Regions from separate parts of the Homo sapiens genome. Here all the other regions are reported to be linked to region 4. Evidence: microRNA targets listed by miRTarBase, many of them from high-throughput screens and not tested one by one. Region 4 holds a microRNA gene; each other region holds the end of a gene's coding sequence. Distances are between the middles of the regions.
What was found. The annotated mature microRNA hsa-miR-6797-5p reads AGGAGGGAAGGGGCUGAGAACAGGA and lies in region 4 at 1,271-1,295, shown strand. An mRNA with a match to its seed (bases 2 to 7 or 8) in the 3' UTR can be bound and repressed. Matches are read on the target gene's strand: a 7mer-m8 pairs with bases 2 to 8, a 7mer-A1 pairs with bases 2 to 7 and ends in A, and an 8mer does both.

Region 1 (3,000 bases), not on the chromosome of region 4:
GCTTGTCATCTATGATGGCAAGGAGTGCCGGGCTGAGTCCTGCCTGGACCGCCGGTCTGAGATGCGTCTCAAGCACCTGGACATGGTGCTCCCTGAGGTGGCGTCATCCTGTGGCCCCAGCACCAGCCCCAGCAACACCAGCCCCGAGGCGGGTCCCTCCTCTCAGCCCAAGGTGGATGTCCGCATGATTGACTTTGCACACAGCACATTCAAGGGCTTCCGGGATGACCCCACCGTGCATGATGGGCCAGACAGAGGCTACGTGTTTGGCCTGGAGAACCTCATCAGCATCATGGAACAGATGCGGGACGAGAACCAGTAGGCCCTGTTCTGGGCCCCCAGAACCCCTTCCTCTCCACTGCAGGCAGGGACCATTGTTCTGAACTTGCCGTGAGGACACACAGACTTGCTTTTAAAGGGTTATATTTCTCTTTGGTGTAAACTAAAAGAAATGTTTTTAGCTGTAGCCTGGAATCCATATATATAAAGTGAAGGAGGGCAGACCACACGCCCTCTCAGCCAGGCTCCTCAGCTTTGTGGCTCTGACTGGTGTGTCCAGGCTGCCTTAGGAAGGAAGAGGTGCCCCTGGTGGGCTTGGCAGCAGGGACAGGGTGCCCTTGGACATTGGTTTCTCTTGTCTAGATCTTTGAGATCTGTGGCTGCAGGGCCCTGCTGATTGTAAGGTAAAGCCCTGGGCTGGTGCAGGGCCCCTCCACGCCCACTCTTCCCTTGTTCCCCAGAAGTAGAGGGCTCTGGGTGCCCATTTCTTGGGGGCTTTCCAGTCTTATGCTGTGGGTGTCAGCTAGCTCTTTAATAGGTGCCCTCAGGGCACCACAGGGCTGACTGCACAAAGCTGGACCCATCCTTCGGTCTGACCTTAGCATGGGGCTAGATTAATGAAGCTGGGCTGAGGCCAACTTATGGCAGAGGGCGGCGCCTGGGTTCCCCAGGCACCTGTTGGCACGTGACAGGTTGGCACCTGTCCTATTCCTGAAACAGCCTCTCTCACCAAGTTCCCTTGCCTAAGAAGGCCACTCCCTCCCACCCCACTGAAGTGGGGGATAGTCGGTGTCCTAGCAGGCCTCAGGGCCTCTGGTGGCTCTGGCCCAGACAGTATTTGCAGTTCTTGTGCTATGGGTGGGAGTCTTCTTCCTCAAGTTTCGGCAGCTGTGCTGCTGCTGGATGGGCTGCTCCTCCCAGGGCTCAAGGGCTGTGGTCCGCTCAGGGTCTCATTTCCCCAGGCCAAGTTCAAGGCAGCAGCCCTTTGTGAGGCGCTCTTGGCCCTGGGCCTGGAGGGAGAACTTTAAGCTTTTTTGCTCACAGGGACGTGGTATGGGCCCTGGGTGCAGGTGCCCACATTCTGCTAATGAGAGCTTTGTCTGATCAGTCCTGGGTCCATCAGTTTGTCCATGTGTCCGGCTGCCAGCCCGTCCCTTGGGATCCTTCCCCTGGGGTGTAGCCTTGTTCATTAGTATATACTCATTCCTTCATGCTTTCCTCAGCAGAACACTTCCACTTCTGAGGTGAGCTTTTGCCCCATGCCCTTCCTCCACAGGTGTTGCCTTTTTATAAAGACCTGATAGCAGAATAAATTGGTGTTTCCCTGTTGACCCAGCACCATTTCTGTGGGCCTAGAATATGGCCCTCAACCCTTAGAGTGGGGCAGTGAGGGCTTGAGGAGTGACCCTTCCTTTCTCATGGTTTTAGTCATTTTGGCTGCCAGCCCTTAATGGCACAGATCTGCTGCTTCTAACAGATGGCCAGGAGGTGACACCGATTTCAGCCATTGCCAAGGTTAGCACCCTCTCCTTTGAGCCTAGGGCCACACTGTTCATTGTCACTTTAGGCAAGTGCCTGTTTGGCTTTAAAGGTAAGCCTGCCAGCTGTGAGAAGCCTTGGTAACTGATGGACTCATTTCCTGGTCCTTAAAGATGCAGCCTCTTAAGGGCTCCTTGATGGATGCCATCTCTCCTAGCCCCCAGCCCTGGTGCCACTGGTGGGCAGGTTCCCATTCTTTGGGGCTGGGAGGGACAGCTTGCCTGTTTCTGGTCACAAATTACAGTCTTCTCTCCTGTACCATTCTGTGGCTTCAGCCATGGGGGCAGTAGCCCTTCATTAGTGTAGATAGTCATTCCCTGGTAGGGTGGAGGGTAAGACATAGGGTCTGGAACTGTTTGGGACCTTTTGGGGATGTCCTGTGCCTCCCAGATTCCTCGATTCTGGGAGGAGAGGCTGCCGCATTCTGCTGCTCCTCACAGCGAGCAAAGCTGCACCCACTTACATTCAGTATTTTCCTGGCACTACAAAGAGTGGGAAGGCCTGGGATTTGCTGCTGCTCCCTTAGAGCAGGGCCCCTCTTTTCAGCACTTTGGACACCTGGAGACCCAGCCCTGTTATTTAATGGTAGTGGGCAAGTGTGTGTGCATACTGTCTGCCACTGCTTTCTCCCTGCCCCATGCCAGAGAGCCCTGTCCCTGCCAGGCCCAGCCTTCTTAGCCCCAACTTGGGAACAAAGTGCAACATGGGATCATGGGTTGGGGTGCTCAGGTGAGCCCTCTCTATAGTGCTTCCCTGGGCCAAGCTGACACCAGCCCCTGAGGGTGGGGTGGGACGGGTGGTGCTTAAAAGAGGAAGGGGACCAGTGTAGCAACTTGCCAGGGACCCCACCCCTCCCTCTCTGGGCCTGTGCAGTGAGCATGGGGATTCCCATCAAGGGGCCTGGCACCTGTGCTAGTTACGTAGCCGCTGCTCACGCGCTCACTCCTGACCACATGCACGTTCCCTAGATGCAGACTGCTTTGAACTTTAAAGCTGTACAATTTGGTTATGTTTGTGCTGACTTAAAATATATTTTAATGAGGAAAAAATAATGGAGAACCCTGGGAAGGACCTGGTTCTTTTGCTTCTCGGGGAACTGTAAGCCCTCGCGTTCTGGGAATCGCTCTCTGCTGCTCTTTCCTGGAAGCTAAGCCTGTCTCCACCGCCCGAGGCCTGCGCCGG
Region 2 (3,000 bases), not on the chromosome of region 4:
AGAGGAAAAGCAAGAGTTAAAAGAGAAACTGAAGGAAACAGAGACACACCTGGAAATGCTGCAGAAGGCTCAGGTCTCCTACCGGACCCCAGAGGGAGATGACCTAGAAAGGTTAATTACTAGGGTTTAGTTATCAGCTTGTGAGTGCTAATGGGAAGCATCCCTTAGGACCCCCACTTACTGGCCGTAGACAAAGGAGGAAGCCTTAATTCACAGGCCACCAAGAATTGAGTAATTACTTCTTAGAAAGCTGCAGCCAGTCTCCCTGTGCTTGGTGGCGTTGTGCTTTCTTCTTTCTAGCTAATGAAAACATAACTGTTGAGAAATGTGGTTCCATTTTGAAGGGGCTTCATTTTATTCTGTTGGTTAATGACTTCATGTCATCTCTTCTCCTGCCCCCTCACTCCTTCATACAGGGCTTTGGCAAAGCTTACGCGGCTACGTATCCACGTCAGCTATCTCCTTACTTCTGTCCTCCCTCACTTGGAGCTTCGTGAGATCGGGTATGACTCAGAACAAGTGGATGGGATCCTGTACACGGTGCTGGAGGCAAATCACATACTGGATTGAGCACCAGACTGTATACCCTTCTCTTCTCTTATCTTCTGTCTGTTCTCTTTTCTCTCCCTCCCTCACGTCTCTCTCTCTCTCTCTCTCTCTCTCTCTCTCTCTCTCTCACCCTCACCTTTATGCCTTATATAGAGAATCTCTGTGTAAATCCTGGCTCATAATCAGTCTCCTTTTTATCAGTTTTGGTGTGGAGAAAGAGGCCAGTTTAAATAGGCTTTCAAGAGTCTAGGGTCAGAAAAGCAATAGTCACTAAGCTAGGTGACCTGAAAGCTTTAATTTTCATGACCTGGATATGTGGTCTATTGTATATCTTTTTCTGAAATGGTTTGTATTCATTTAGGTTAGATCAATCAGCAGATATTGGGTCCGGTATACCAGGTATTATTTTGGGGTAAGCTAACAAGTACAACTCATGTTTGCAGCCTTCGAAGATGTAACAATCTCGTTGGAAACATAAGACATACATCACATTATACACAAAAGTGTATGATATGTACAACTGAGTGGTACAGATATGACATGGAAGATCTGGGGGAGGAAGTTCAAGGAAGGCACCACACCAGAAATGGGACCTAAATTAAGGCTTAAAGAATGAGCATGGCCACACTGTCAGTGAGTGTTCTTTAGGTGGTAGGACTATGGTTGATATTTTTCTTCTTCCTATCTTCCTGCCTTTTTCAGATTTTCAATATTAAACTTGTTATTCTTACATTGGAAAAAAATAAATTGTTTTTAAAAAGATCAAGTAGGCTTGGATTTGAATATCAAATGAGAGATTATGTGAAAATATAAGGTAATGTTATATTTCTAATTTATATTAAATTTAGCATTACCTCTGGAAGAAGAAAAGCATAAACAAAGGCATGGAAAAATTTGGAATGTGAAAAATGTGTTCGATAGAAGTGGTGGGTTAATATAAAGGGGACTAAGGTTATATCATGATCTGTTCGCCTGCTTTGGTATTCGCATTTTAATAAGGGATTCTTGAAAAACCTATAAGGCTCAAATTAAAAAATATATTTGTCATCAAATTAATGGGATTTCAGGTAGTTAGGGAAGTACTTTAGAGTGGAATCTGATGTCCCTCAGAATATACCTACTTACTCTTCAGGCTAGTGCTGAGTGAGGGGTAAACTTCGTACTATCAGAAATAGTAAAACTTATTCTCTTGTAAAAGGAGACATTGTATTCATTTCTTTATTGTGTTTACATAGCACATACTCTCCAAAGAGTTCAGGGTACTTTTCAAAAGACATTGAATAATGAACACATAAAAATATACCAACAGTAAAAAGTAGGAAGTAGAGGAGAAACAATCAAAGGAAGGTGAGATCAAGCAGTGGCAAAAGGATTAGCTAGTCCAGAGGAAATGTCTTGGATATTCATTCTGTTTCTCCTCCACAGAGTTACTTCAGAACACTTTTCCAAATTAATTTTAACTCCTTCGAAAGGGGGCTCATAGTACATAGCCCAAGTGAGACTGCAGGGAATGAGGGGAGGCCAAATCCAGGCTTCATCATTAGAATGAGTACTTAAAGATACCCCCTGCCCCCTTACCTTCCACCTCACCCCAGCTCTAGCTTGCCATATGATTAATTTTCATGTTAGACATTTGGATTATGATAGTCAAGGCCGCAGTTGTCTAAATGTAAATAGTACCGAGGGAAGAGTAGCACATTCCGACATTCTCTCAGTGAGACTTATTCATCAGATGGGGGCTGTGAGTGGGTGAGATTTCACACAGATGGATGGGAGTCTGCTGGAAGGAAAAATTCAGAGCATTGAAGGTTCTGCCTGTGTGAGTGTTTGTTGGGTGAATGAGGGGACTGAGTAGGAAGGAGGGCAGGCAATGAGGCTTTAAAGGGAAGAAGGTAGGAAATTTGAACTCATCTTTCCTAGTGCTTACTCTCAGCCCATTCCCTGGTTTGTGGACCTGACCCCACACTGCTTTTTCCAGCACCACTGTCTGTGTGAGTCCATTCACTTCAATACCAGAGCCACCTCTTTGTTTCCTATTTACTAAGAAGCCATACCAGCATGAGATCTCCTTGATAGTGTTAAATCCCACTGTGGAAAGATTGAAAAATATCTCCCAGCCTTACCAGAGGTTACGATCTAGTGTGGAGGCAAAAGACATTGAGAAGAAAAAAGCAGGTGCCTCCTCCTGGCTCTCCTGTTAGGTTAACATAATCATAATTCCCCTTTGAAATGTCTCCCACATTTGCCCTTTAACTTCCTATTGCCATGATAAGCATTTAGGTTATTACCTAAATAACTTGTTACCTCATGCCTTGATTATCTAAATAAATTCTTAGATGGCCTCCCTTGCCTCCTGTTCTCCCTCCTCGATCCGCCCTACTCAGTGTCACCAAATTTTGTTTTTTAACAACTTCGTCAGGTCATGCCTCTGCTTAAAGACTTGCTAGTGTT
Region 3 (3,000 bases), 14 Mb from region 4:
GTAGGAACTCTTTATACATTTTGTTGCGTGTGTTGAGGGGAGTGGCGGGGGTGTTGAGACAGAGTCTCACTCTGTTGCCCAGACTGGAGTGCGGTGGTGCAATCTCGGCTCACTGCAGTCTCTGCCTCCTGGGTTGAAGCAATTCTCCTGCCTCAGCCTCCTGAATAGCTGAGGCTATGGGCATGCACCACAATGCCTGGCTGATTTTTATATTTTTAGTTGAGATGAGGTTTCGCCACGTTGGGCAGGCTGCTCTTGAACTCCCAACGTGAAGTGGTCCACCAGCCTTGGCCTCCCAAAATGCTGGGATTACAGGTGAACCACCGTGCCCGGTTTGTTTTGAGGAAGGGTCTCCCTCTCTCACCCAGGCTGGAGTGCAGTGGTACGATCATAGCTCACTGCAGCGTCAACCTGCCCATCTCAAGTGACCCTCACACTTCCGCCTCCGAAGAGCTGAGATTACAGGCGCACACTACCATGCCTGGCTAATTTTTTTCTTTTCTTTTCTTTTCTTTTCTTTGAGACAGAGTCTCGCTCTGTCACCCAGGCTGGAGTGCAGTGGCAGGATCTCAGCTCACTGAAACCTCTGTGTCCCAGGTTCAAGAGATTCTCCTGCCTCAGCCTTCCAAGTAGCTGGGATTACAGACATGCACCACCACGTCCAGCTAATTTTTGTATTTTTAGTAGAGACAGGGTTTCACCATGTTGGCCAGGCTGGTCTTGAACTCCTGACCTCAGGTGACCTGCCCGCCTTGGCCTCCCAAAGTGCTAGGATTACAGGCGTGAGCCACCCCACCCAACCTTGTTTAGTGTTTTAACGGAGGTTTCATTACATGGGCATATTAGACAAATCATTGACCATTGGTCATTGACCTCAACCTTCAGCCCCTCTCTTCCCAGAGGTTGGTAGGTATGGGTGGGGCTGAAATTCCCAACTGTCTAATTCGGTCTTGGTATTTCTAGTGACCAACCCCCTTCCTGAAGCTACGCAGGGGCCCATCACAGATGGCTTCATTAGGACAAAGACTGCTCCTATTAATACCCAGGAGATTCCAAGGGATTGAGGAACTCTGTCAGGGCTAAGGGCAAATATTATTTTTATTATGCACTTCGCTAAATTATTTCAGTGGGTTCCGAGGCCCAGGATGCAGGCACCTTCCTTCAGCAAGGACTGTTTGCTTCCCTCATGCAGAAATGGTTGACGATAAACGCAGAGCTTAAGATTTCTTGGATGGCCAGTGATGTGAATTTGATCTGAAAATCTGAAGGGTTTCTTCCCTTGTCTTTCCTTCGCTCCCTGCACTGCTAGAGGTAGAGAGGAGTGCAGACTTTTGGTTCCTTTTCTCCCTTAGCTTGGGAGATTGTCACTGGAGGCAAGGGCTCAAGGAAGGGTCAGACCCCTTTCAGAGGCTGAGCCGTTTCAACCTCAGCTGTTTTATTAGAATAGGCAAATTCTTTCAGGACAAAAGCAGCCTTTGAGTTTTCCACTCTCCTATGGGTCAGAACTTGTAGATTTTTATTGTAAATGTATTTTACTTTTTGTAGAGATGGGATCTCACTGTGTTGCCCACGTTCGTCTTTAACTCCTGGCCTCAAGTGATCCTTTCACCTCCTAAAGTTGGGATTACAGGCGTGAGCCATTGCGCCTGGCCTATTTTTAATTTTTTTAAAATTAATGAGACATTGGTCTAAATAACCTAAACGCATTAATAGAATGGGAAGTTTCCCCACCCCCTGGTGTGCACACCCAGGTTAATCCCTTCCCCTTGAGGGCAGAAACTAAGACTAAGCTGGGATCTTACCCCTGTGATTTAGTCATTATCACTTAAGTATCTGGATGGGCCTGACCTAATCCGGTGAGCACCTCAAAGGGAATGGGCCCTTAAATCAGACCTGCCAGGGCCCAAGGAGGGGCAGCTTCTTGGAGCTAAGACCCTAGTTCTACGAGGACTGAAATCAGCCAACAACCATGAGCATGGAAGAGGACCCAGACTAAGGAACACCAACAACCAATACCTCAATTTTAGCCTGCAAAGCACTGAGCAGAGACTAGCTCAGCCGTGTCCAGACTTCCAACACAAAGTCTGAAGTGGGTGTTGTTTTAAGCCGCTGGCTTTGTGATCTGTTGTGCAGAAATACATGTGGGAACAGGCTTTGCTGCCCACAAGGGAAAAACCAATCTTTAGCACAAAGCAGGATCAGATGATTCAAGGGGACCGAACCTTGGCCCAGTCCAGAACCAGACAGACGAGGCGAGCCTCATGCCAGACTGCTGGCACCTGGCCGTCCTGAGCAGGAACACCACTGCCACACCAACGTGGCCATTATTCTAGAGGGAGAAGTATAGGGCAGTGCCGCTCAGGCCACCAGGAGCAGCTCCAGGTCCTCGCCCCATTTTAGATTGGAAATCTGACTCCAAAGAGGGGTTGTGACCGCTCTACCTCCACAGAACAAAGAGGTGGACCCAAACCTCAAACAGCAAGGCTGGTGAGCTAGATGGACCCACTGCTGCAGTCCATGAGGCTTTACAAGGACCCAGGGCCTGTGCAGGGGAGCCAAACTCCCAGAGCCACATGGCACCATGCAGCGGTCCTGGGGCATCTGTGAGACACAGAAGCTGCTTTTCCAACTTTATTTAGAAAAACAAATCCAGGTCCCAGTGCCCCCTGTACCCTCCCCGACCCCAGCCATAATTTAAATAACTTAGAGACAGAGTTGGAGGGAGGGGACAGGAGAGGTTGGGGTCACGGTGGAAGGAGGAAGAGAGCCCACTACAGCCGCCGCAGCGCCCGCTTCTTGTCCGTCTTTTTCTTGGCCGCCAGCTTCTTATCGCGCTCGCCAGCATGCTTCTTGGCCATGGGACCCTCAGCCCCTCCCGGGCCCCCTGGGGCCCCAGGGTCGGTGGAGGAAGCTTCAGTGCCACTGGCCAGGGCCCGACCGGCTTCGGCCCTGCCGCTGGGCCCGCCGGCGCCCCCGTGGATCTCTGTGAGCAGACGGGCC
Region 4 (3,485 bases):
AGAGTAACCCGGCCCTCAGGTGAAGAAGGGTGGAGAGATCGAAAAGCATTTGGCACAGGGCCTGGCAGATGTGTGCTCCAGTTAATAGAAGCGTGCAAGCGTTTCTGGGGAGGCTGGTGTGTCGACTGGATTTTACGGAGCTTTTTTTGCAGGCAAGGAGGCTGGCTGGGGTGGACCAGGGACTTGCCCAAGCCAGCCTTCCCTGTGTCTGCAGAGGGGCTGGTACACATTCCAAGCAGGGGGCACCCACTGCACAGAGTGTCTGCCCTGCCCTTGTTATCCTGAGCTCTCCAGACTGAGGTGGCCCGGAGAGTGGCAATAGGTCCCTTCACTCCTGCTTCTCTGGGGCCCATGGAGATGGTCACAGCTAGGCTCCACCCCTACATAACCTCAGGTTCAATTCAACAGCAGTGCTGCTGGGATAGTAACCACTAAAGAAGTTGGCCCTGGAGATGGTGGGAGTGCCCACCCAGGGTGCAGGGCTGTTTGTCAAGGAAGAGCTAGCCGGGGGGGTGGGTGAGGAGAGGGGGCTGTCAGTTTCTGGGTGTTAGTGTGTGTTTTCAGTTTCCCTTCTTATAAAACAGTGAGAATTAGCTGTTTACACACAAGGAATTGTTTACCTGAGACCTTGATCAAGACCCTTAAATCTCCCTCTCACACTACCCCCAGCTTCCACAGCGCGGCACCTGTACCTCCGGGGTGGCGCTGGGGTTGGCTCCATGACCAAGATCTATGGGGGACGTCAGAGAAACGGCGTCATGCCCAGCCACTTCAGCCGAGGCTCCAAGAGTGTGGCCCGCCGGGTCCTCCAAGCCCTGGAGGGGCTGAAAATGGTGGAAAAGGACCAAGATGGGTAAGCAGGGTAGAGGGGGCTGCATTGATGGAGTAGCCTTGAGGCCCGGTCATCAATTCCCCAACGAATGGTCCTGCATAGTCTGCCCAGCCCCTCAGGCCCCTCCTATCAGAGGCAGGCAGGAGGGGATTCTGCAGAAAAGCAAACAGCACGGGGCCTCACCCCGACCTCTCTGGCTGACTAGCCCAGGCTCCAGGAGGGTAATTTAGCGACTATCTGCTTTCATTAGCCTGCTCGTTAACTTTTCCCAATTGATTTTTCGGGGCTTTTGATCTAAATGCTTGCACAAACAACACCCCGTCAGCTCCCAGGGGGGCTCCCACTACTGCCCCCAGCTCGTTAGAATGCACCTGACTAGGGCCCTCAGTGGGACTTGGCTGGCGGCAGGTGGCTTTTTGAGAAGCCTGGCTCACAGCCAGGAGGGAAGGGGCTGAGAACAGGACCTGTGCTCACTGGGGCCTGCATGACCCTTCCCTCCCCACAGCGGCCGCAAACTGACACCTCAGGGACAAAGAGATCTGGACAGAATCGCCGGACAGGTAAGGCCTGCGTTTGGGGTGGGGCTGGGTCCCTTAGTCGCTGCCCAAGCATTTCCAAAGCCCATACTTTGTCAGGTAGACTTATTTCCTTCTCTGGAGGGCACAGCCCAGGGTGCTGGTGGGGTCAGAGGAGGGCTGCCCAGAGACAGGAGAAAGGACAGTCCTGTCTGACTTTTCCTGTTGGTGCTGCTTAGAAATTTGGAGGCAGGCTGGCTGTGGTGTCTCACCCCTGTAATCCCAGCACTTTGGGATGCCGAGGCAGGCGAATTATCTGAGGTCAGGAGTTCAAGACCATTCTGACCAACATGGAGAAACCCTGTCTCTACTAAAAATACAAAATTAGCCGGGTGTGGTGGCACATTCCTGTAATCTCAGCTACTGGGGAGGCTGAGGCACAAAAATCACTTGAACCCGGGAGGTGGAGGCTGCGGTGAGCCAAGATCATGCCATTGCACCCCAGCCTGGGCAACAAGAGTGAAACTCCATCTCAAAAAAAAAAAAATTGGAGGGAACTCCAGCCCAGGTGCCACTGGGCATCTATCCACAGAGCACATAGCTGTACCCGTAGATGACTCCCCCTCCCCAGGTCAGCCTGCGATGTTTCCCCTTAGTCCTCATGCGTACTGAGCATCACATGGGCTGCTTGGGAGAGGTGGAGATAAGGGAGGGGGGCTGGTTCAGAACCCAGGTCTCCATTCAGATCCTGGCTGGCCAACACCCTGGGGCAGAGTGGCCACACCCCTGGTGCCACAGTCTCCTGTCTTGGCCTCCCTGTGGCCAAAATCTACCCTTGGCCACCTCAAGCATGGTAGTGAGGAGTCAGTGAGCTATAGTACAGCAGGAGCACCCAGGGCCTGGCATGAGCTCAATTCTGTATCACTGACTCAGGCCTCCTAGGAGCCTTGGAGCATTTAGTCAGTCAAGTGTCACAAAAGAATGGAAAGTGTCAGCCCTCTAGGAGTTGGGGGTGGTCTGGAAGGAGAAAGCTCTTCCAGGCAGAGTGGGGCTTGGCGCACACATCATTGCTGGTGGTTGGATGTTGGCCTTCTCACATGGCAGTGGGCGGAATTTGGACTCCACTCCGCCACTCCCTTCCTTTTTTTTTTTTTTTTTTTTTTTTTTTTTTTGAGACAGAGTCTTGCTCTGTCGCCCAGGCTGGAGTGCAGTGGTGCAATGTCAGCTCACTGCAACCTCTGCCACCTGGGTTCAAGCAATTCTCCTATCTCAGCTTCCCGAGTAGCTGGGACTACAGGCACACACCACCACACCTGGCTAGTTTTTATATTTTTAGTAGAGACAGGGTTTCACCATATTGGTCAGGCTGGTCTCGAACTCTTGACCTCAGGTGATCCACCTGCCTCGGCCTTCCAGAGTGCTGGGATTAAAGGTGTGAGCCACTGTGCCTGGCCACTCCCTTGAGACTCAGTTTCCACGTCTGTGAAATGGGGGAATACCCACAGTGAGAATTAGATGAGATAGATGCATTTGAAACCACAAATCGGGGTGCCCACCTGTGGTGGGTAGTTAGGTAGCTGTTACAAAGTGCCCCAGCAGAGACCCCCTTGACTAACTTTTATTCTTCCATCTTTTCCCACAGGTGGCAGCTGCCAACAAGAAGCATTAGAACAAACCATGCTGGGTTAATAAATTGCCTCATTCGTAATCCTGGTCTGGGTCTCTTTTTTGAGTCTCTTGCTCTGTCGCCCAGGCTGGAGTGCAGTGGCGCCATCTCAGCTCACTGCAATCTCCGCCTTCTGGGTTCAAATGATTCTCCTGCCTCAGCCTCCCAAAGTGCTGGGATTACAAGTGTGAGCCACTGTGCCTGGTCTGGTTTGGGTCTCTTGATTGTTCTTCAGGGGCATGAGGAAGAGGCGCTTCCTCCCTTCCCTTGGGTGAGGGGGCCCAGGGTGATTGGGTGGCTGTTTACCCGGCAGCCAGTCGGGCCTTCCCAGGTCAAACAGTTCCCATCTGGGTTTGGAGGAAGGACCCAGGGGCCCTTGTGGCTCACTCCCCCACATCCTGTCTTTGCAATTGTCAGAAAGTGAGAAACGAAAGGATGGCTGTGAGCTGTGACCTCAGCTGGGCCTGGGCTG

Region 1: miRTarBase lists IP6K1 as a target of hsa-miR-6797-5p. Seed matches in the 3' UTR shown: 7mer-A1 at 709-715 and 7mer-m8 at 1,036-1,042.
Region 2: miRTarBase lists MORC4 as a target of hsa-miR-6797-5p. Seed matches in the 3' UTR shown: 7mer-m8 at 625-631.
Region 3: the mRNA of UBE2S is a reported target of hsa-miR-6797-5p. Seed matches in the 3' UTR shown: 8mer at 2,717-2,724.

Annotation. Positions count from the first base shown.
Region 1 is chr3:49,724,444-49,727,443 of GRCh38, reverse strand. It overlaps IP6K1 (inositol hexakisphosphate kinase 1), which reads left to right. Exons shown (of 6, transcript NM_153273.4): 6 at 1-3,000. The coding sequence ends at 322. Among named protein-coding and RNA genes, the nearest start is that of GMPPB, 2.0 kb to the right of the region's middle. RefSeq lists a silencer at 3,000.
Region 2 is chrX:106,939,049-106,942,048 of GRCh38, reverse strand. It overlaps MORC4 (MORC family CW-type zinc finger 4), which reads left to right. Exons shown (of 17, transcript NM_024657.5): 16 at 1-111; 17 at 417-1,311. The coding sequence ends at 570. Among named protein-coding and RNA genes, the nearest start is that of CLDN2, 20 kb to the right of the region's middle.
Region 3 is chr19:55,398,665-55,401,664 of GRCh38, forward strand. It overlaps UBE2S (ubiquitin conjugating enzyme E2 S), which reads right to left. Exons shown (of 4, transcript NM_014501.3): 4 at 1,081-3,000. The coding sequence ends at 2,772. It also overlaps a transcript of RPL28 not described here. Among named protein-coding and RNA genes, the nearest start is that of SNORD157, 2.5 kb to the right of the region's middle.
Region 4 is chr19:41,868,362-41,871,846 of GRCh38, forward strand. It overlaps MIR6797 (microRNA 6797), which reads left to right and starts at 1,266; the gene lies at 1,266-1,337. It overlaps RPS19 (ribosomal protein S19), which reads left to right. Exons shown (of 6, transcript NM_001022.4): 4 at 670-853; 5 at 1,338-1,392; 6 at 2,990-3,485. The coding sequence ends at 3,016. RefSeq lists enhancers at 1,114-1,672, 3,115-3,184, 3,425-3,485.